Linked DNA regions of Homo sapiens. The gene in region 1 interacts genetically with each later gene. Each region holds a gene or a part of one and is shown on either strand. Other genes may lie near its edges.

Region 1 (11,369 bases):
GATAAAGACTCAGGAAAAGTTTCAGGCTTAATCCCCACCCACAAAGCAGCTTTAGGCCACTGGGTTCCACCACAAAGACACTGGCTCGCTTTGTGAAGGAGCAGCAGGGAAGTGGGGGCGGGGAGGGTGGGGTCGGGGCAGGACAGAGTTAGACTGGGAGAAAGGGTGGGGCTGTGGGAAAAGCAGGAGAGTTCTAGGGAAAGTTCTAGTTGGAGGAAATGAAGTAGGAGGAGCGAAGAAAGGACTAGCAGGAGGTGGCTGGGGGCCCTGGAGCAGTGGAAGGGGGTCAGCCCTTCTCAGTCTATAGCTGGCAAATGCACGGAGCTCACCCATCCACCCTGATTCTTGGCTGGGGAAAGAAGGGCATTCATTTTGGGTGCCAGGCCCTCAGTCTGGCCTCCCAATCTCAGTAGGCCACATGGGTAGAAAGGGCTGTGTCTCTGCCACAAGTTGAGCTAATTTCCTTGGCTCAATTCCATCCTACCAATCCTTTGCCAGTCAGCCGAGAAGCAAGGAGGCCTGCAGTCTTGGGAAGGGAGTGGCGGGTGAGAGAGAAGTGGTTGTGTCCTCTGTAAGGATCTAGCTCCCTATCTACAGAAGGAGGCCTCTGGGTTTGATGTGGAGGGAACCAAGGACTCGGGCTGGTGTTTTCTATCCTCAGCAGGAGTTCTAAACCTTAGATTCTTTCCTCCCCATTCTGCTCCCCCTCCAAAGGACACACAGCTCTTGCCTCAGTACCCCCAGGCAAACTAGGCTGACAGAATCCATTCTGAAGAACAAGAGTCATCCAGGAAGGGGAAAGAGGGAATTCTGGTATTTCTAAGCAGCTGTATACCAGGTGCTGTGAATGGGAGTGTGTTTCATTCCTCAGGTGTGCAGGGCAGAACCAAGGTGAAGGTGAAGATCTGGCAACCCAGGGCCTTCCTGTGGACTCTCCTACTGTCTAAAGACACCCCAGAGTATACTGGTCTCTCAGACTAAGAAAGCCGCCCAAAGTACCCACCACACCTGACTCCCCTCTCCTAACCTCTGGACCCCCAGAATCTGAAGTGCACGTCCCGTATGACCTGAGGATACCCTATGACACCAGCAGGCTAGCCACGCCTAAGATCTGTCAGTCTTAGAGTTCACCAGCATAGCAATAAGGTATTAGTAGTTAAGAACTTGGGTTATGAAGTTTGAGAGATCTGGATCCAAATCCCAGATAGCGCATGTGGCTTCTGAGCCATGGTTTTCTCTGTAAAATATCTCTATTTCAACAGACTTGTTAAGATTTTAAAATAACATATATACTATAAAGAGCTACTTATGATGTGTAACAACAAGTAAGCACTTGATAAATGACAGCCGTATGATTACACTCAGAGACTTCAGGATGGGCATTTGAGTAGAGACTGGTGGCTGGGGCAGCGGCCAGCACTGAGGTGATGACAAGCCCTGCTGCACCTCCCCTCAGAATCTTCCCAAGCTGAAACATATCCAGGTGTTAACCCAACCCCTGGAGACTCCAGCTCCCTCAGAAAGGCGAAGGCAGGCAGGGGCCCCGGGGTCCAGGTGGAAGGGAGGTTTAGCCCTTTAAACAAATGGGAAACAGCATGAAAGGCTGAGCAGGAGTAAGAGGAACACATCAGACCCAACAAGCAGGGGTCAGTGGAGATGTGAAAACACAGTTGTCAAGTGCCAATGAACTGGCAAGTTACCTTGATGAAGCTCAGAGGGGAAAGCACATCCATGAGGAAACTGCTCCACGAGTCATTAAAGGCAGCATCGGAAAGGAGGCTTATGATCCCAGAGTTCAATTCCTGCAAACTGACCATGCCAGCTCAGAGGCTTGGCCCCTGGCCTCCAGGCTACTTCCCCTGCCACAGATATTTGATACCATCTTCACGGACTTTCAAGGCCTGAGTTCTGATGGCCATGAGGTCTCCCTCCCCTGCCTGCTGATCTCCAGCCCCCTTTGCCGTTGCTGACCCGGGACCAGAGACATGGGACTGTCCCTGAAGCAGGCTGAAAGCTCCCAGCCTTCAGACTCCAGAGCGGAGGAGGGCAGGTCACAGTGCTTCCCACAGGGAAACCTGGGACTGGTCAGGGATGGGCGAAGGAGCCTGCAGATACCTACCCAATAACATATATGTCAAGATTGAGGTTCCGGTTGTTCAGCTGAAGCAGGTCACTGAGATCTAGAGGGGGCGCTGCCGAAGCCACGTTCCAAGTCACGACGTGTATGCTGCGGAAGGGATGCAGAGGGAAGTCATGGAGGAAGGAGGATAAGATAGTGCACGGGGTCGGCTGGGCGCAGAGGCTCACACGTTGTCATCACAGCACTTTGGGCGGCCGAGGTGGGCGGATCACCTGAGGTCGGGAGTTCGAGACAAGCCTGGCCAACATGGTGAAACCCCGTCTCTACTAAAAGTACAAAAATTAGCCCAGCATGGTGGCAGGCGCCTGTAATCCCAGCTACTCTGGAGGCTGAGGCAGGAGAATTGCTTGAACCCACGAGGCAGAGGTTGCAGTGAGCCGACATTGTGCCACTGCACTCCAGCCTGGGTGACAGAGTGAGACTCTGTCTCAAAAGAAAAAAAAAAAAGATAGTGCACGGGGTCTAGGCCTGCTTATGTCACTGCAATCTGCCACACTCATGATGGGAAATGTGGGTTTCTGTGCTGGTGGAGGGAATGGGGATACTGAACCATCAGCTGTCCGTCCTCACCTTTCTCTGCTGAAGCAAGAAATCCCCACCCCGGACTGGGTCCTCCATGCTGGCTCACAGCCACCCACACCCGGCAGCACTGGTGCTGCTGATATAGCAGAGTCGCCAAAGGGAGCCCAAGAATTTCAGGTCAGGCTAGCGAAGGGTTAGGGGGCTGAACTGCCAGGAATGTATTAATTCCATCAGCTCCTCCAGCCACCCACACCCCTCTGTCATCATCTATGGCTCAGTCGGCAACTTCTGATCCCTACTTCTCACCCCAAGTGTTCCTAAGACCACCAGGAAGATCCTAGGGATTCAGATTTCACCTTGTGATAGGCCTCAGCACTACAAGGGCAGAGGAATTTAAAAAATAAAAGAGATAACACCACCATATTCCCTTCCTCTCTCCTCCCTAGCAGATCCCTGGAGCAAGCCAATTTTGCCAAGCACTTCAGCGAGACTTTTTTTTTTTTTTTTTTTGAGACTGAGTCTCACTCTGTTGCCCAGGCTGGAGTGGACTGGGATGATCTCGGCTCATCGCAGCCTCCGCCTCCCAGGTTCCAGCAGTTCTCCTGCCTCAACCTCCCAAGTAGCTGGGATTACAGGTGTGTGCCACCACATCTGGCTAACTTTTGTATTTTTAGTAGAGACGGGGTTTCACCATGTTGGCCAGGCTGGTCCTGAACTCCTGATCTCTCAGGTGATCCGCCCGCCTCAGCCTCCCAAAGTGCTGGGATTACAGGCCTGAGCCACCGCGCCCGGCCAAGGAGTTTTTAAGTAACAGGTTTCTCGACATCTCTCTTAAGAGTCTATGCTCTATGTCTGCGTAGTATTCCGTGAAAAATAAAGAGTACTCTCTGGGGAAAAGTCATCAGTTGGATATTTTCCACCTCAGCTTACAAGTCTTAGGGAAGCAAGAAAACTAGATAAGGGGCCTCAATGACACTGGATCCAGTCAGAGGCTCAGGAAAGAGAGACCTACAGATGTCTTTAGTGGAACAGTCAGTCACAGCAGCTCTTCAAGAAGCCTCAGACTGTGCGGAGCACAGAGCGGGCAGGAGCTACAGACCCTGCAGAGACCAGGAACAGCCTAGCATGAGTCCTAGGCACACGATGAGGAGTACCTGCAGCAGCTGGAGATCTGGAATGGCAGAGGGTACAGGGGGATGGGAGAAAAGGGCAGTTAATGCCAAAACATCTCTCCTCCAACAGACCCCGTCCTTAGAGGTCGACGTTCTCAAAAGCACTTCAAGAAATTCTTGGCCAGTTTAAAGCAACTTCCTGTCCCTCCCTGTTAGCATAAACAACACTATACAGAAACCACCTTCCCAGGCACTCGGCCTGAGATTTTGAGCTTCATTTGTTTACGATCTCCCCCTGCTGTCCGACAGAGGCTTAAGGAACAAAGACCTTTTACTCAGAGACTTCTTTTCCCAGACTCACTCTAAGAGGATGGAGAGCAAAAGTCCGGATTTCTTGTTCCCACTCTCAAATCCGACGATTAGCAGCAAATCCAAGCATCGTGACTTAGACTAAGTGGGCGATTAGCGTTGTTCCCCGTGAAAGAGCAGGCAAGAGACCAGGCTAAGTCACTTCCCTAAAGGATCTTATCTCAATCTGATTTCGGATTCCCGGGGTTCACCATGGGATCAGGCAGACCTCCTGATGTATGTGCTGATGAAAAGTAGGAAAAAGATTTCTAACCGAGAGCCGAAGGGTGACGGCCTCGTTATGTCTTTAACCTCAAACAACCCCACACGGCTGTCCTCTCCAGAAAGCAACCGGGACACCTGCTGCGCCCCAGTGGGAACGAGCTTGGCGGCCTCGGCTTAGAGGGGGCGCGAGGCTCGGGCCCAACACAGCCCACCTGACACAGGCGTGGGAGAAGGCGAGAGCGCCTCTGAACCAAAGGCAGTCATGGAGGTCTGGTGCCTTGTCCACCCCCAGCCCGCAGCCCAAGGGGCGCCGATCCCCCCGAGCAGGCCTGCCTCTGCCGCCAGGGTGCCCTCACCTGAGCCTCCTGCCTTTCGGCCCGCTCAGCTTCCGCGAGCTCATGGCCGCCGTCGTCCCCGCGCGGTGGTCCGGCAGGTTCGCGTCTCCCGGCCAGCGGGTCCCGGCCAGAGCAGCCCTGCGGGCGGCCGGTCTCACGCGCCTAGCTGTCGCGGACTGTTTTTCTTCCGGACTCCGACCGTCCGCCCCGGCTTCCGTCAGAGACGCGCCCTCCGCGCACCCCGGGATCTGGGTGGTGCGGTTCGCAGAAGGAGGCGGGACTCTCCCACGAGCGCAAAGCTGCGAGAGGCTGAGCGAAGACGGGTTCGCGGACGTAAGAGGGGCGTGTCGGGCCTGTCATCAGCGCACGCGCAACACTGCCCCAGACGACGCGAGGTGTGCGGCCGCCACTAGACCCGGCCCAGCCCGCGCCCGCCGTCCGCAGCTCCCAGCGTGCCCCGCGCCAGGGGCCGTCTTCCGGCGGAAGTTGTCTCTTCGCCGCCGCCGCAGCCTCTGCCCCACTCGTGAGGGATCCGAGGGCTCCGTCCTTGTGCTGTCTTCGCCCCGGCTCCCAGGGGTCAAACGAGGGTCGGGGGTGGGGACACGCAGCCTAGCCACTGTCCTGCCTGGGATCCGGTCTCCCCCGCCCCCCGGCTGCAGGTAATCTCCCCATTCCTGCTACTGCGGGAGCGCCTCCGTTCTCCACGCCCACTTTCAGGCTTCTACTCCAAACTTATTGGATTACCTATTGCATATGGGACGTTTGGGGATTCCTGGACTCCTACAGAATTAGCCGTCAATAAATGAAACGTAGGCCGGGGCGCGGTGGCTCAATGCCTGTAATCCCAGCACTTTGGGAGGCCGAGGCGGGCGGCTCACTTGAGGTCAGGAGTTTAAGACCAGCCTGGCCTTAACATGGTGAAACCCCGTCTCTGCTAAAAACACAAAAGCTAGCTGGGCTTGATAGCGCGCGCCTGTTAATCCCAGCTACTCGGGAGGCTGAGGCAGGAGAATCGCCTGAACCCGGGAGGTGGAGGTTGCAGTGAGCCGAGATTGCGCCACTGCACCCCAGCCTGCGCGACAGAGCGAGACTTCGTTTCAAAAAAAAAAAATAATAATAATAATTAGCCGAGATGGGGTTTCGCCATGTTGGTCAGGCTGGTCTCGAACTCCTGACCTCAGCTGATCCACCCGCCTCGGCCTCCCAGAGTGCTGCGATTTCAGGTGTGAGCCACCGCGCCCGGCCTAAAACTACTTTAAATAAATGTTTTGCTTGTTTGGTAGGGTGGATAAAGAGGAAGATGTGAAGAGGAGGCAGACAAAAGCAAAAGGACATCCTGTCAGTAGGAAACGGCCGAATTACAATTCAGATGTGCAATGTTTGCATAAGTAAACTGACACGGGACTATTATATGCAGAAATCCACGTGCAAAAATTTTCAGACACACCTTTGTACCTCTTCCTAATCCTGCCCTGGTAAAATGGCGGTTATCAGTGCAAGTTTGAGGATACATACAGCTGGAAAATGGACATCACCAAACTGGACTCCAGAAAGTTCTGTCTAGGATTTTATTAGACTGCTTTTTTTCTCAATATACCTGTATTGGAAGATTGAGACAAAAAGGCACAAACTCACATTAAATAAACAAGGTAATCTAATCAATTCTACAAAGTGTAGTTTGTAAAACAAGTAGCACTAGGAACCAACCAAAGTAAGTCAGGGAGTCCCAGCAGGGACTGTAAAAGAACTTGGGAAGCTATACACATGCCCACGATACTGACCCTGTCCCGGACCTCTCTGCATGAGAAGGCCAGAGCCCAGCACCCCTCCTACAGAGGCACTGCTGCTTCTGTTGGGGCTGTGACCCTGGAATTCTGATGGAAGCAGCTGGTCTGAAGGGGCATGGCACACACTCAGGTACTACCCCTGGAGCTGAACCTTTATCATAAGTCCCTCTGAGTGCTAGTCAGTTTGGAGGTGGGTGAGGAGGAAAGGGGGTACTTAAAAGAAGCCAACACTGTTGCCCAGCAGCAACACCATCCGTGGGGATGGAACAGACCAGGGACATCCTCCTTTATGTTTATGTGGGCTGCAATTCCAGATCCAGGCTGACCTCAGCTCATAATGGATGCTTTTCAACTGGGGCAACAGGTGGAGGTGGGAGGAGCCCTTGTTAGGGCTAAAGTGATATGTGTGGGTCTCAAGAGCCAAAGGAAGGAGACTAACAGCTGCTGACCCTCAGACCACATAGACAACTGTCTGCCTAGAATGTCAGTTTGTTTCTTTCAAGATAACCCGCATCTGGACTTCCCCTAGTTGATGAATGAAGGAACATCTTTAAGCACAAATATAATGAATAGCTAACACAGAGCTTATAGGAAAACACTGACATTTTTCTCCAGTAGGAATGCCTCTTCTCCAACTTTCCAAGTCAGATAAATGCTACCAGCAGTTGAGATGCTACCCAGATGCATTACTAAAGACCCCTCAAGGTGAGGAGACTTACACAGAGGAAGGTGTCTGTAACAAGACATCTGGTTCCAAAGGGACCTCAATGAAGGTCAGCGCTAACCATGCTGGGGGTCTGAGTCTGTCCACCCTTGCCCCAGGAGGGCCACAGGGAAGCATCCATCAGGATGTCACAGGTGCAATCCTGTGAGACACTCCCTTATTGCACTTAGAAATGAGTAAGGCAAACAAACTGACAAAAACAGGATACATTCTCCCACCCACTTCTTGCTTCCCGGACAAAGATTTGGTCTCCCATTAGCAGATGCACCCAGGCTAGTGTGGGCTGGGATCACGGCACACTTAGGCCAACGTGCTTCACAAGGTTTGGGGAATGTCAGGTGACACTACAGCTCTCTCTCATTCTCCCACTAAGAGGCAAACTCAGGCTCTGTCAAGTTGCAGGAAGCTATGAACACTGGGCAGCGTCTGTTCCCCTGGAGCCTGGACTTCCTCACCAGCCTACTTTGGTCGGGTTCTGTACTATGATCACTACTTGCTTTGGGTTTTCCAGGGCAGAACTCAACATGGGGGTAGGACGAGCTAAGTTCTTGATCCCCAAATTCCTTTCCGGCAACTGGAGACGAGGGAACATGTTCTGCTGGAAAAAGCTTTTTGCATGCTCATATTGTGCAGCATGAAAGATCAGGACTCTTGCTTCCTAACCAGCCTCAAAGACAGAGGACAGGGACCTAAGAAAGCACAGAGAAAAGAGGATTATTGCTGAGTGGCAGCACCAGCCCCAAAGGGAAGAGGAGGAGCAGGGACTTACAGAGCTCCTCGGGGTCAGACAGTTGGTATCTAGGGGGTGACTCAATTCTAGGGGCCACACTGGACAATTCCCTCCAAGTGGAGAGTTGACTGGGGCGATTTTGTAGACTGCAGAGAGATTCAGAGCGGGCAACAGGAGGGCCAAGAAGCCACAGGTGTTTCTAAGAGTAGTAACTAGAGATTCAGTGATTGGGACAGGGTTACTCGTATTTGTTAAATTTTCTTAAATAGAGACTGGCTGAGCCTTGGGTACCTCCATAGTGCTAGAGTGCCCTAACGATGGGTTACTGGGAGCAGAAGTCAGAGCTGCAAAACCACATTGCTATTTTGTGGAAGCGGTGCGGGGCAGGGAAACATTGTATCTTTAGCTCATCCCCGCTCCCCACAGGAGCACTCAAAATTGCGAAGATCTTCCCAGGAAGCAAAATACCTCAGTTTACCCCAAGGTTGAGAACAAATGAACTTAAATCATTTAAATCACCACATCACAAAAGGCAGCTATTTGAAAGACTGAAAATGTCACTTGGAAATAAAGGTTGGGGGAACACACAGAAATGGATCGGAACACAATGGAGAGAGACGGAGGCGCTGTAACTACAGCAACCTACACGCCACGTATCTCGGAGGAGCAGGCTCCTGCACACGCGGGCTCTGTGACACCAGACGGTCTATTTGTTCACAATACTGAAGGGCATCTAGAATTAGCTACAGTAAGGAATCGAAAGTTGCCTGAAGAATGGGCACAGAACGGCTGCGTCCGAAAATGGCCTGTCACTTGGGAGGGTGGAGCTGCTGGGTCTTCCTGTTGACCACTGTCTTGCAAAACTAGAAGAAAAATGAAAGTATTAAGGAAGCAAGAGGAGAAAACAGAAACACTGTAAATCGTCCTGAATGGATAATTTCAAGAGGAGGAGGGAAGCCAGTGGGTGGGTGGGGAAGGGAGTGGGGGAGAGCACTGAGGCCCAGAGCAGTGACTGAGAAGCTGGCATCACAGCAGTCCGCCTCATTCCACCCTCCAGCCTCCCCGAGGCTGCTTTGGGAACATGGGGCAGGGAGAGTAAGCAGGGCCTGCCGTCACTCCTGGTGAGACCCTGGCCCTCCTTGCCCGTAGGGTTAGAGGCCAGCTTTTATTTGTAAAAATAATTTTCTCTCTGAGGCTAATTGGGAGCAGAGCCAGGTTTTTCATTCAGTGATTAAGACTGCTTTGAGCTGCTGGAATCCCATGACTCGGGTGGTGTACAGGGCACTGGGAAACCAGCACCGAGAGTTAACGGAAGGAGGGGGCTTGGGGAAAAGTGACAACATGAAACAAGGGGCCCCCAATCTGGCCCTGTGACCTGGGCAGAAACACCCTCCCAGCATCTGAAAGATGCCACCTCTGATGAGGGCAGCTTAGTATGGGATCGGGGGTATAAAGAAGGAAATGAAGCACCAGACAACAGTGGGTGCTAACAAAAGCTGTCTGGCCAGCAAGTTTTCCAAGGGGGAAGGGCAGGTAATGGCAGCTTTTGGGAGCTGGCGCTGGCGTGGGAAGGCCAGGGAGTGCCCAACATGACAGCTGCAACTTGAGATGGATCAAGCTGGCAGACAGGAGGAGTGATTCGCAGCAGATGAACTCCCCTTCTATATCCACCACCCCCTCCCTGTCCATTGTCTCTATCTGGGTGGTTCTTTGGAAAATGTCCCTGAAATGTCCCAAGGGCCATAATCTCCTAGTGGAAGTGGAGAGCTATCGAGCGTGGCAACCATCATTACTAGAGGGAAGGAGGAATAGGTTTTCTGACTCCATAGTGAGCTGCTGAGGCCTTGAAACCCAAACTGATTTTAGCGTCTGTGACACGCACAGTGAGAAATTTGGTACGTACAGTGCAGAGGGGAAAGGCGGCTTTAGTCATCTGCTGTCATTCCTTTCACTGGGTCCTTTTGTCTCATCTGGAACAAAAAAAGCAGGACAAATGGAAGGCTCCTGCTGCTGATGGAACTCCTGCCTTCTCAGTCCTGCCCATAGGTGGGGTGGGGCATATTTTGTGTAAAAAGCAAGACACTGGAAGGACGGAAGAATTCTGCATATGGACTCGAAGCCATACATTTCCAGATCTGTGTCACTGGTCTCACCATCCATGATTTCTAGTTCTCTCGTGTCACGGTGTTTGAAGCACCTTTTTTTTTTTTTTTTTTTTGGTAAAGAGGTGTGTGTGGGGGGGTCTTCCTATGTTGACCAGGCTGGTCTTGGGCTCCTGGCCTCACACGATCCTCTGCCTCAACCTCCCAAAGTGCTGGGATTACAGCATAGGTGTGAGCCACCACACTTGGCCCGTTTCATTCATTTATTCATTCAACAAATACTTATGAAACATCTTTTTTTTTTTGAGACGGAGTCTCGCTCTGCCGCCCAGGCCGGACTGCGGACTGCAGTGGCGCAATCTCGGCTCACTGCAAGCTCCGCTTCCCGGGTTCACGCCATTCTCCTGCCTCAGCCTCCCGAGTAGCTGGGACTACAGGCGCCCGCCACCGCGCCCGGCTAATTTTTTGTATTTTTAGTAGAGACGGGGTTTCACCTTGTTAGCCAGGATGGTCTCGATCTCCTGACCTCATGATCCACCCGCCTCGGCCTCCCAAAGTGCTGGGATTACAGGCGTGAGCCACCGCGCCTGGCCGAAACATCTTTTTTTGTGTGTGTGAGGAGTCTTGCTCTGTCGCCCAGGCTGGAGTGCAGTGGCGCAAAGTTGGCTTACTGCAACCTCTGCCTCCTGGATTCAAGCGATTGTCCTGCTTCAGCCTCCCAAGTAGCTGGGATTGCAGGTATGCACCATCACGCCCAGCTAATTTTTGTATTTTTAGGGGAGACGGGGTTTCACCATTTTGGCCAGGCTGATCTTGAACTCCTGACCTCAGATGATCTGCCTGCCTTGGCCTCCTGAAGTGCTTGGATTACAGGCGTGAGCCACCGCACCCAGCCTCAGTGAGGCATCTCTTTAGTGCTAGGGACTTCCAGAGGGCTGGGAATATTTAGCTGTGAACTAAACAGACCAGTTCTCTCCTCAAGGAGCTTATATTCTGGGGCAGGATGGGCAGAGAACAAACATTCATCTATGTCAGCTAGGACTGTGGGCTGCTCGGATACAGAATGACTGTGGGTAAGTGCTATTTTAGGTAGTTACAGAAGCTTGTATGTGAGGTTTGAGATGAAACCTGAGAGAAATGAGGGAGAAAATCCTGTGGCTCTCCGGGAGAGGAGTTCCCGGCAGAGTAACAGAACTTCCCTTTCCTGACCTGTTTAAAGGTGGGCACAATGTGGTGTCAGAACTAGGCACAAGGATGCAGAGGTGGAAAGTGCAGGTGCAGGTCTCAGATCCACAGATGTGCAAGGCTGCTGGAAAACAGGATGGGGGCTTCTGTGGAAGCACC
Region 2 (11,523 bases), on another chromosome or scaffold:
TGTTGTATTATAATTATACTTCCTTGTTCAATTAAGTTCCTTGAGGACAGCAACTAAGTATATCTTACTCATTGTCTATTTATAACACCCACTACAGCATTTGGCACATTTCTAGCACTTGACATTTCTTGAATTAAAACATTATTTCTAAATTTAACAGTAATCCAGTAAGATATGAACATATCACATCTGGGTTAAAGCCTGGGTTATTGCAGGTAAAAAGAAATAGCTGAAGTACTTAGATTCAGTTCCTGGATCTGCCTCTCTCTATGCAACATTGGCCAAATTACTTAAACTTTATCACTTCCTTCATATTTTAAAAGAGATAATACTGTACATTCCTCACACATTTGGCAAATAGACAAAACAAAATAATACAAAATTGATTTGGAAGCCAAAGTACTAAACACTCAGAATAAAGTATGTCTACTAGCCTAAGCAGCAAACAGCTCTGGTTAATAGATTATTAGAGGAACAAAGTTACTCTATTTTGCCTATATTATGCCAAATAATACTTTATCTTAGCTTATATTTTCCACTTAAAGAAATAACTTTGCCAAATACAGGACTCCTATTTTCTCAAAATTCTTCTAAGAGTGCTACAATTAACCCATACTGAAATGCACCACACATAGGGTGACCATGGCCAGAACAATCCCCGTTCTGTGCTGTCTTGGCTGACTTACTAGTGCCCTTTCCCTCTTTCAAAAATGTTCCACTTTGGAAGATAAATGGTCACCTCAACTAAGTACTATTCTTTATGACCTGCTTAAGCTCATTTTATACATTCTAACAAATATTGGTCAAAAGAAAGACTCACAGTTTTATATTTAAATTAAATATAGAAATACCTGAATTTTTATGGTGCTATTTTTAATTTCCTGAAACTTCCGTTTCTGTATAAATCCTTTACTTCTAGCTTGAATAATGATAACACTGCTTCTGATCTGTAAATAGACTTGTCTTTGATGTTTTGCAGACAGAAATGCTCTGTAGTGATTTTGTAAAACCACTGCTGCTTTTCTATATAGTAAAAACTGTTTTCTGGTTTGCCACGTCCTAAAATAATGCTGTAAAGTGATAGCAGCTCTTTTCTGCTGAACAAATCTTCTCCGATACACAGCCATCTGAAGGAAGAACTGAATCCGTAGGGCAGCACATTTCTGTGTTTCCAGTTTTCTTGTGACCATTCTACAAAAAGCTTTTTGAATTGTTACTGCAGCCCTACTTTGAGAATGATACTCTGCTTCCTGTGAACAAGCAAGGCCAGAAGCTTTATACCACTCTTGAATCATAACACCTTCACTTTGAACAGCTTCATACTGAGTTTTACTTCTGTAACAGCAGAGTGCAGATTGGTTAACAATGGCTGCCATCTTTTCCTCTGATACATTTTTCAATTTTTGTCTAACTTTCATGCCTCTAAAAGCAGCCTGAATAGTTCGTACAGATTTCTGAACTGCTAAAAAGTTTTTTCTTTCTGTTTTTACTCTAACATACAACCTATAATAATTCTGTATAACCACAATTGCAGTTTTCTTTGTTTCATAATCAACTTTGGCCCTGTGCATTCGATAGAATGACTGAATTAGTGTGGCAGCCCGGTGCATATTTTGAATATCCTTTCGTACTTTAAAGCCTCTGTAATAAGACTGTATACAAATAACTGCTTGGGTACGCACTGCAGTTAGTTTTCTGTATCTTCTTTGAATAGAAACTACTGTTGCTCTAAGGTGGAGATAATGCTTCCTTATTTTAAAGGCTTTACAATGCTTCTGAATAATAATGGCAGCCTGGTGCTGTTCCTGAATCTGTTTTTTTATGTTCATGTCCTGAAAACCTGCCTGAACACAAGTCTCTTTCTTAAGTTCATTGTGTTGAAATACTTTCTGTTTCTTTTTATTTGCTCTATATTTTTCTTGTATGATTTTTGTAGCCCACTGAAGCTTTTGGTAGAAACAATACTGCCTATACATTCTGTAGGTGCTTTGTATTACGATAGAAGCTTTGTGTTTTTCCCTTAAAAGTTGTCTTGCTTTCATTCCTTTATATGCAGCCTGAATAACCACAGCAGAATGCCATTGTCTGATATAATTTTCTCTTTGTAATTTTGCAGCTCTATATGTTCGATAATGTTGCTGAATTAGAATTGAAGCATGTTTCCAAGTCTGAAATGTAATATATGTTCTGTACATCCTGAAAGTAGCCTGAATGAGAACTGCAGCCCTTTGCATTTCTTGTAACTTCTTCTTTACCATCAGTCTTCTGTAAGATGACTGTATTGTAATGGCTGCCTTTCTTAAGTGCAAGAATTGGTACAATTTATGTTTGGCACAAATGGTGGCTCGATATTTCCTCTGAACAAAAATAGTAGCTTTTTTGAGGGAAATGAATCTTCTCCTCACCAGTAATGATCTAAACCTACTCTGAATAAGGGTTGCAGAGGAATGCATACTCTTCAAATGTCTTCTAGTTTTCATACCCCTGAATGCAGCCTGAAGGATCACAGCAGAGTGTCTTTGTCTGAGATAATGCTGCCTCTGCAGTTTTGCAGCTCTATTTGCTTGGTATTGCTGTTGGATCACAACGGAGGCCTGTTTCAAAGCCTGATATCTCATATGTAATCTGTGCATTCTGAAAGTAGACTGGATGAAAGTAGCAGCCCTGTGCATCTCTCGCATCCTTTTCCTTATCATCCATCTTCTGTATGATGACTGGATTTTAATAACTGCATTTTGTACCTGAAGGAACTGTAAGTGATGCTTTGTACAAAGATGTGCCCGATATTTTCTCTGAATCAAAATAGCAGTTTTCTTGAGAGAGAGGAATCTTCTTCTCATCATTAGAGTTCTAAATCTCCTCTGAATGAGAGTTGCGGCTATATGCATCATTTTTAAATGTCTTCTAGCTTTCTTTCCCCTAAAAATAGCCTGAATGTATATTACAGAATGCCTCAGTTTGTTATACCTTTGAAATTGTATGTTTCTTTCTTTCATTGCCCAGTATCTTTGCTGTACTGTTTTTGTTATTTTCTTTAACTTATTAAAGTATGTTTGCTGTCTGTATCTTCTGTAGTTTGACTGAATGAGTGTTGCTGCAGTCTGCATCTTTCTAAGAGTCCGTCTAACTCTTACTCCTCTAAAACTTGCCTGAAGGACTTTAACAGCTTTCAAAATTGTCAGGTACTTTTCACGCTGCATTTTACCTTGATAATATGCTCTACATCTTACTTGAATAACAATAGCTGCTTTTCTCATTGTATGGTAACTTATTCTTGACTGATGCATTTTAAACATGGCTTTAATAAAAGTGGCTGCCCTGTGCATGTGTTGAATATGTCTTCTAACTCTAATACCTCTATAAACAGATTGGATTTTAATTGCTGTCTTCTTCAAATTAAGATACTCCTTATGCTGATGGTTTGTAATTTTAATACCTCGATACCATCTCTGAATTATAATAGCTGAAGCTCTATAGGTTGCATATTTCTTTTTGGTTTTGTAAGCTCTGTATTTAGACTGTATAGTGACTGCTGCTTTGTTGCAATCCTTTATTCTTTTTCTCACTTTCATACCACGATAAGCTGACTGTAAAGTTACTACAGCTGCTTTTGTTTTCAAATATAAATGATTCTGTTCTCTTCCAATACTGTAAGCCCTATAATACTTTTGAATCAGAAGAGCAGCTTTTTTCATGATTTTCCACTTCTTTTGTTGCACATGCATTCTATAGTATGACTGTATGATGATAGCACATTTATGTTGCCTTTGAAGCTGTCTTCTCAGTGTTTTTCCCTTCCACATAGATTGAAGCACCAGTACCGCATGACGGAGTTCAATATACTCCATACATTGCTTCCTTCCTGCAGTCCATGCTCTGAAATTTTGCTGGATGACTAATGCTGCTGTTTTAAACAATCTAAACTGTTTCTGGGCCTTGGCCATTCTAAAAGCAGACTGAATCTTCAAGGCAGCTTGATGTTCCCTTCTAATCTGTTTCCGAACCTTCCAGCCACGATAAGCAGACTGGAGGGAAATCACAGCTGCCTTTGTCTTCAAAAAATGTGTTCTTGTATCATGAAGAGTCTTGTACGCCCTGTACCATCTCTGAATCTTTATTATAGATTGAAGCACAGATTGATATTTTACCCTTTTATTATAGCCTCTAAAAGCAGACTGAATTTTAAGAGCAGCTATAGATTGTTGTTTGATTAGCTGGCGTACTTTATAACCTCTGTAAGCTGCTTGCAAGCAAGTAGCTGCTTTTTTGACTTGCAAGAAGTTCTTCCTCTGATTGACCTGTGCTTTGTATGCATGATAGTAATTCTGAATGACAATAATTGCTTTATACATTTTCAGATAATACTGCCGAGCCTTTCTCATTCTGAAATAAGACTGTAGTGAAATAACAGCTTTTCTTTGTAACCTCATCTGCTTTCGGACAAGGTATCCTCTAACAAATGCTTGCAGTTTGATACAAGATTCCCGCATCTGCATATACTCTTCTCTCTTTTGTGCAGCTATTTTTTTGGAACGGTAACATTGCTGGATAAATAGTGCAGCTGCTCTTAAATGCAAATATTGTTTACGTGTTTGTTTCATCTTAACAGTTGACTGCAATTTTATTGTAGCATTTTTTAGGCTCAAAAATTCCTTTTTAGAAACATAAGCACGATAATATGATTGAATCTTTATAACAGATGTGAGGATGTGAATATACATTTTCCTGGCTTGCATCCCTCTATATGCAGACTGCAGCACAATGACAGCAGAGCGTGTTTTCTGGTAAGATGCTAGAACTTTCATGGCAAAAATATAAGCTCGGAAATGAGTCTGAATTATAACAGCTGCTTTCTTCATCTTCTTATATTTCTGTCGTTGTTGATGTTTTCTTACATGTGCCTGAAATTTGATAATAGTCTTCTTAAGGTTTAAAAATCGAACTCTGTCTTGTCTCATTCTCCAGTATGACTGAATAACACAAGCAGCTCTAATTTGTCTACATAAATTATGAGCTTTCAGTCTCCTAAAAGCAGCTTGTAATTGAATGGCTGCAGCTCGTTTCTGCAAATAGTTGGTGCGCTCAATCTTTCCTTTCAGATATGCTTTGTAGTACTTCTGGATGGTTAGTATGGACTCTTTTCTTCTTTTATATAACTTTTGGGCTTGAAAGCACCGAAATCTTTTCTGAATGATAACAACACAAGATCTAATATAAATATATTTCCGTAATTCTTTATGCATTCTATACCATGATTGTATGATAATAGCAGAATTTTCTTCTTTAGCTTGTTTTCTTAAATGCCATTCTCTAAAAGCTCTTTGCAATATTACTGTAGCTTTTACTTGTGATTGCATTTTACGTTGCTTCCATTTTCTGAACATAGATTGGATTATAAGAGTTGATGATTTTAGCATTTCATATCTTTGTTGATCTTGTTTTCTTCTTAAATAAGCACGCCAATGCCTCTGAATTGTAACTGTAGCCCAAAGATATCGTTTATAAGATGTAACAGCAATTATCATTCTTATCCTAGATTGCAGGATGATTGAATAATATTTCAATTTCAGAAATCTTTGTCTAGTGGAATATCTTCTCCAATATCCCTGGAAAAGGTAAGAAAGGACACAAAGTAAAATAGGCATAGCTTTCTATATTTAACACTTTTCAAAATACTAATTTTTCTAACATTCTGCTTAAAAATAAACACATTGAATTAGAAAACTAATTATTTTTGTGAGATATTTGTCTCTTTTGTTTTTAGTTTAGGTTTTACATTGATATACCTGTAGCCAATTCAGAAATCCATCCAAATCTTCATTATATTTAAATACTGCATTTGTATGCCAGAATCATAAGAAACATAAGCAAGTTTATGTTATATTACAAGCAAAAGAGTCAAAATAAAACTATAGTAATATTCTTTGCTATCTATTGATTCTAAGTAATTTCCTATGAGTTTATTTCTGGGCCTTATATGGTCCCCTTACTTCAATGTTTCTAAGCTACCTTATAATGACTAGAAACTGTTTATGTGAAGGATCCTGCATTATCACATTACAGGCCTGATAATATAAATATAGGAATTTAGGAATAAATAAACCAGATCACTCTCAGAGTCATTATTTTCATTAAGAATAAAATTACTTCCTTTTCCCAAATTTAGGAACTATAAATACATGGCTTAAAAGTAGAATTCTAGAAAGACTTGAGAAATGACAAAACTTTTGTCTTTTGAAAAGCCATGGTTACAATGGCTAATCCAACTGTATGTTGGCTCAACAAAAAGAGCTACAAACTCTCAAGCTAATTCCAGTTGCTGGTATCTAAAATGGTCCCAGGCTAATGGTAGTCAAGTTCTAGATGTTTTAGCAATAAGACCATTCCTTTGTACAAACACTCCAAACATTGCTGAGATTGGGGGTGGCATGGAGAGGTTGTTCTCTACTACATCTTACTTTTTCTCGCATATAAGTAGAGTAATATAGGGACTGGGTACCTCGCTCTCCTATAGCAGTATCGAGTTTGCTTGCAGCTATCACTGGCCTAAGCATACCTATCCATGGGTGAGGAAGCTTAAGGAGAACATGCACATCCCTTTTCCTGACCCTTTTCCTGTAAGTTTTATTGTCTTCTTCCTCTACTAAATGTTACCTGAGGTTTTGTTCATACTCTTCAACCTGACAGGAAATGATTGTATACATTTTATCTTACCAAGAAGAGATGCACAAGTTGTCAAAATATTTATCCAACAACAGTCAAACTTATTTGTACAAAAGTATTTTGAAAACAATAAACTCTACATAAAGTATTAACTTGCTTTAAATTAGGGCAAAGTAAAGCAGTAATAGTACTCAGAAATTCAGATATTATTTTTCTTTTGAGCACCCACCCCCAACAGATATTTCTATGTAAAATCCTCAAACTAAGAAATTGAAGAATCAGTGTGTACAGATTGTTTTATACTTTAATAATCACTTTTTCTACATTACTATTACTACTCCATTACTGAAATGTTAATCAATGTTGATATATAACATGGAAGATATGATCATCTCCTCTCCTAACAGTTTTGCTTATTACAATAGCAATTTTTTCACCATTGTCATACAATTCTTAAAAATAAATAGCTTTTACTAAGGAACACATTACATACAATTTTCTCACTTAATTCTCACAAAAATACATTAAGTTGGCATTGTTTCTTCACTTAAAGAAAGGAACACTAATGTTACAAAACTTTTTGCAAAGTCCCACAGCAAATAAAAATAATTGATCTTAGGATCTACATTATTACACCAAAATCAAATGTTCTTTCTACTCTACCACAGATATCTGCAGCAGGTTGAGTGCATTAACAGCCCAATTCTTCATCTCTCCCAGTAACTATAACCTGTGCCATACTTTGTTTTTCCTCATACAAAAGAGTTTCTCTGCTTGAGATATGGGCGCAGTCATGGAAAGAATGCAGTAGAGCAGTGTAACTCAATCTTCAGTTTTCTGGTCAGATGATGAAACAAGGCAGCCCTGAGGAACTAGAGGGTACCAGGGAGATGGTAGAGACTGGGGAGCTCAGGGAAGCAATCTGATAATGTTGTTTATGAATTTCTAGGTTCACCACCAAGTTGTGCACAATGTGAATCTAGACCACAGTAGGCTATAGACTTTAAGAATTGAATAAGATACAGATCACAATCTAGATCCCAGACTGGCTACTGGGTGTTACATAATGAAACTGATATGATACAAATATCACTCACTGTAAAGGCTTTCAAAAAGGAACTGTCACTGAAGCTACGCTCATGGAAGGCTGATGAGAACAGGTGGCCTGAACCCAATCAAGTGAATTAGCTGCTAAAACTAAAATATCAACATTCTCCATAGGATTTAAACAAAACATAGAGTCTGATAACATAACATTAAATTTCCAGAATGCAATTAAAAATTATTTGACATACAACATAACAGAAAAATTTCAACTCTCACAAGAAAAGATAATCAATAGACACCAATGATGAGATGACAAAGATACTGGAATTGGAATTAACTGACAACGACTTTAGAGCAGATAAAGTAAAAATGCTACAACAAGTTGAAACTAATGGAAAGATAAAAAGTCTCAGTAAAGACATCAAAGATATGAGTAAGAACCAAGTGAGAATAGTAGAACCGAAAAACACACTAACCAAAATAAAAATTCACTGGTATGGCACAATAGCAGAATGGAGATGACAGCCAAGATGGCAAATATCTCAGCTTTGTGGGCCAATTCTGTTGCAACAAGTCAATTATGCTATTGTAGTACAAAAGCAGCTCCCAAATAATACATAAACAAATAGTTGTGACCATATTCTAAAAAACTCTATTTATAAAAACACATGGTAGGCCAAATTTGGCCTGCAGATATACCAACCTCTGACCATGATAGACCATATTGTGGATCATAAACTAAAGGTTATCAAATAGGAAAGAATTGAAATCACAGTATGTGCTCTGGTCATAATGGAATTGAAGAAAAAGTCACTAACAGAAAAATAATAGGAAAATCTCCAAACATTTAGAAAGTAAATAACATATTCTGAAACTTTAAATCATAGAAAAAGCCTCAAGAGAAATTAAAAACTATTTGAACTGAATGAAAAAAAAATACCATATCAAAATTTGTAGTATGTGGCTAAACCTGTATTTAGAAGAAAATTTATACCATTAATGTGTTACATTAAAAGTGGAAGGACTCAAATCAGTTACTCAAGATTATACTTAAAGAAACTATAGACAGAAAAGCAAAATTAATCAAAACAAGAAATAATAAAGACTGAGCAGAGACCAATGAAGCCAAAGGGTTGTCCACTGAAAAGATCAAGAGAGTTAAAACTCTAGCAAGACTGACAAAGAAGAAAAGAGAAGATACAAATTATCAATATCAGGAATGAAAAAGGGAATATCACTACAGACTACCCAGGCATCAAAAGGATATTAAAGATATACTTTGTATATACATATGGTAAATTCAACAACTTGGATGAAATGGACCAATTCTTCGAAAATTAGAAACTGCCAAAACTCATCAAAGATAAATAGTCCTATACAAATTTAAAAAACAGAATCTGGCAAGGTGTAGTAGCTCACACCTGTATTCCTAGCACTTTAGGAGGCCAAGGCAGGAGGATGACTAGAGCCCAGGAGTTCGAGACCAGCCTGGGGAATTTAGTGAGACCCTATCTCCACAAAAAATACAAAAATTAGTTGAGTGTGGTGGTACATGCCTGTAGTCTCAGCTACTTGGGAGGCTGAGGTGGGATGATGGCTTGAGCCTAGGAGATTGAGGCTGCAGTGAGCTGTGTTTGCACCACTGTACTCTAGCCTGGGCGACAGAGCAAGACCCTGTCTCCAAAAAAAAAAAAAAAAAAAAAAGTCCAGAGAAGAATGTTTGAGATGATGAATATGCTAATTGTCCTAATGTGATCGCTATACAGTATATGTATCAAAACATCACTATGTGCTTTATGAATATGCACAATTATGTCAAGTAAAAAAAGAGGAAAAAAATAAAATAAAATAGAAATTTCCACTCTAAGATAGTATCACTGGTGAGTTGTATAAAATAATTAAAGACAAAATAATAACATGTCAACAATCTCTTCCAGAAAACATAAAAGAACGCTGAAACTTCCCAACTCATTACACAGATGCAAAACTCTTCAATAAAATACTAGCAAGTGGAATTAATGAAATATCAATGCATATAAAAAATACATAACTAATATTTGAATTTTATCCTTGGAATGTAAGTTTACAGTAAGATTAGAAACCCAATAAATGTTAATATATCCATTGAAGCAGAAAAAGTATTTAATGAAACCCAAATCTATGTGATAAAACTCTCAGTAAGCTAAGAAACAGAGACTCCTTCAACCTGATAAAGGGCATCTACAAGAAAACTACAGTTTATATAATACTTAATGCGTGAACAAGGCAAAGATATTGAATCTTACCACTCCTATTTAGCATCATACTGGAATTCTTAGCCAATAAAATAAGTGGGGGAAATAAAAAATAGAAAGAATATTTAGATTGGAAAGAAAGGCAGACAACACGACTATGTAGAAAATCTCAAAGAATCTAAAACAAAAACAAACATAAAAACTTCATAGAAATAAGTGAGTTTTTTTAACAGGATTAATAGTTAACCCTTTTATATGTTAAAGGGTTAACATATAAGGATGAATGTTTATAAAAAAGAAACAAATGGGAACTGAAATTAAAAAGCAATACTATTTATAATAGCTCCAAAATAAAATAAGATACTGAGGTATGAATCTAACAAAAAGCTGATGATGAACAACTCAAAGATCTAAATAAATGGAGATATGTATCACCTTTATGAATCAGAATAATCAACATAGTAAAGTTGTCAGTGTACCTCAAAATATCTGTAAATGTGATGCAATTTCAATCAAAATTTGACAGTATTTTTTGAGGACATAGAAAAACTAACCTAAAACTTAAATGGAAAGACAAAGCAACTAGAAAATTCCAACTCATTTTGAAAAAAGAATAAAATTGGACGAATCACAATATCCATTAAGGCTTACTATAAAGCTGCAGTAATCAAGAAACTGTGGTATTGATGAAGGTATAGACACATGTATTAATGAAACAGAATACAGTCCAGAAGATCAACACACATATGACCAACTGATTTATGACAAAGGTGCAAAGACATTTCAATGTGGAAAGAATAGTTTTTTACAGCAAATAGTGTTGGAATAATTGGACATGTATATATAAAAAAAGTGAACATTGACCTAACCCTTACCTTAGAGGAGAACTAACACAAAATACATCATAGGTCAAAATTTAGAATGAAAAATTATAAAACTTTTAGAGTACTTTGATATGACGCTAAAAGCATAATCCATAAAAGAAGAAAAGTGATAACTGGATTCCAATAAAATGAACTACTTCTGCTGAACAAAAAGCCCTGTTACAAGAATAAAAAGACAAGCTGCAGATTGGGAGAAATTGTGTGAAATCACTAACAAAGAAGGAGGATTACCTACTAGATATCCAGATTTCACCTACTGCTACAGTGCGAGGCTCAAAGATAGACAAATGGACCAATTGAATAGAAAGAAATACTAGAAACAGAATCACACATATAAGAATAGCTGATGTCTACTACACAAATAGAAAAGGGTAGAGAACCCAAAAATAAAACCACATACCTAAAACCACCTGATCTTTGACATAGTTGACAATAACAAACAATGGGGAAAGGATATGCTATTCAATAAACGGTCAGTGCAGAAGATTAAAATTGGACGCTTTCCTTTCACCACATACAAAAAATTAATGCAAGATGGATTAAAGACTTAAATGTAAGACCCAAACCAATAAAAACCCTAGAAGAAAACCTAGGAAATACTACTCCGGATATCAGCCTTGGGAAAGAATTTATAACAAAGTCCCCAAAAGCAATTGCAACAAAAAACATAATTGACAAATGGGACCTAATTAAAC

What was found.
Region 2: changes in INPP5K (region 1) and ASPM together harm fitness more than expected from each alone (negative genetic interaction), as found in Homo sapiens cells (one study listed by BioGRID).

The regions. Positions count from the first base shown.
Region 1 is NC_000017.11:1,511,753-1,523,121, forward strand, and holds the start of INPP5K (inositol polyphosphate 5-phosphatase K), read right to left. Parts: upstream 4,861-11,369; 5' UTR 4,748-4,860; coding exon 4,704-4,747; intron 4,367-4,703; exon of another isoform or gene 4,136-4,366; intron 3,834-4,135; exon of another isoform or gene 3,675-3,833; intron 2,228-3,674; coding exon 2,120-2,227; intron 1,810-2,119; coding exon 1,701-1,809; intron 1-1,700. Other genes in the region: PITPNA (phosphatidylinositol transfer protein alpha isoform), read right to left, coding at 9,849-9,893. UniProt on the Homo sapiens protein: Inositol 5-phosphatase which acts on inositol 1,4,5-trisphosphate, inositol 1,3,4,5-tetrakisphosphate, phosphatidylinositol 4,5-bisphosphate and phosphatidylinositol 3,4,5-trisphosphate.
Region 2 is NC_000001.11:197,099,580-197,111,102, forward strand, and holds part of ASPM (abnormal spindle-like microcephaly-associated protein), read right to left. Parts: intron 5,607-11,523; coding exon 852-5,606; intron 1-851. UniProt on the Homo sapiens protein: Involved in mitotic spindle regulation and coordination of mitotic processes.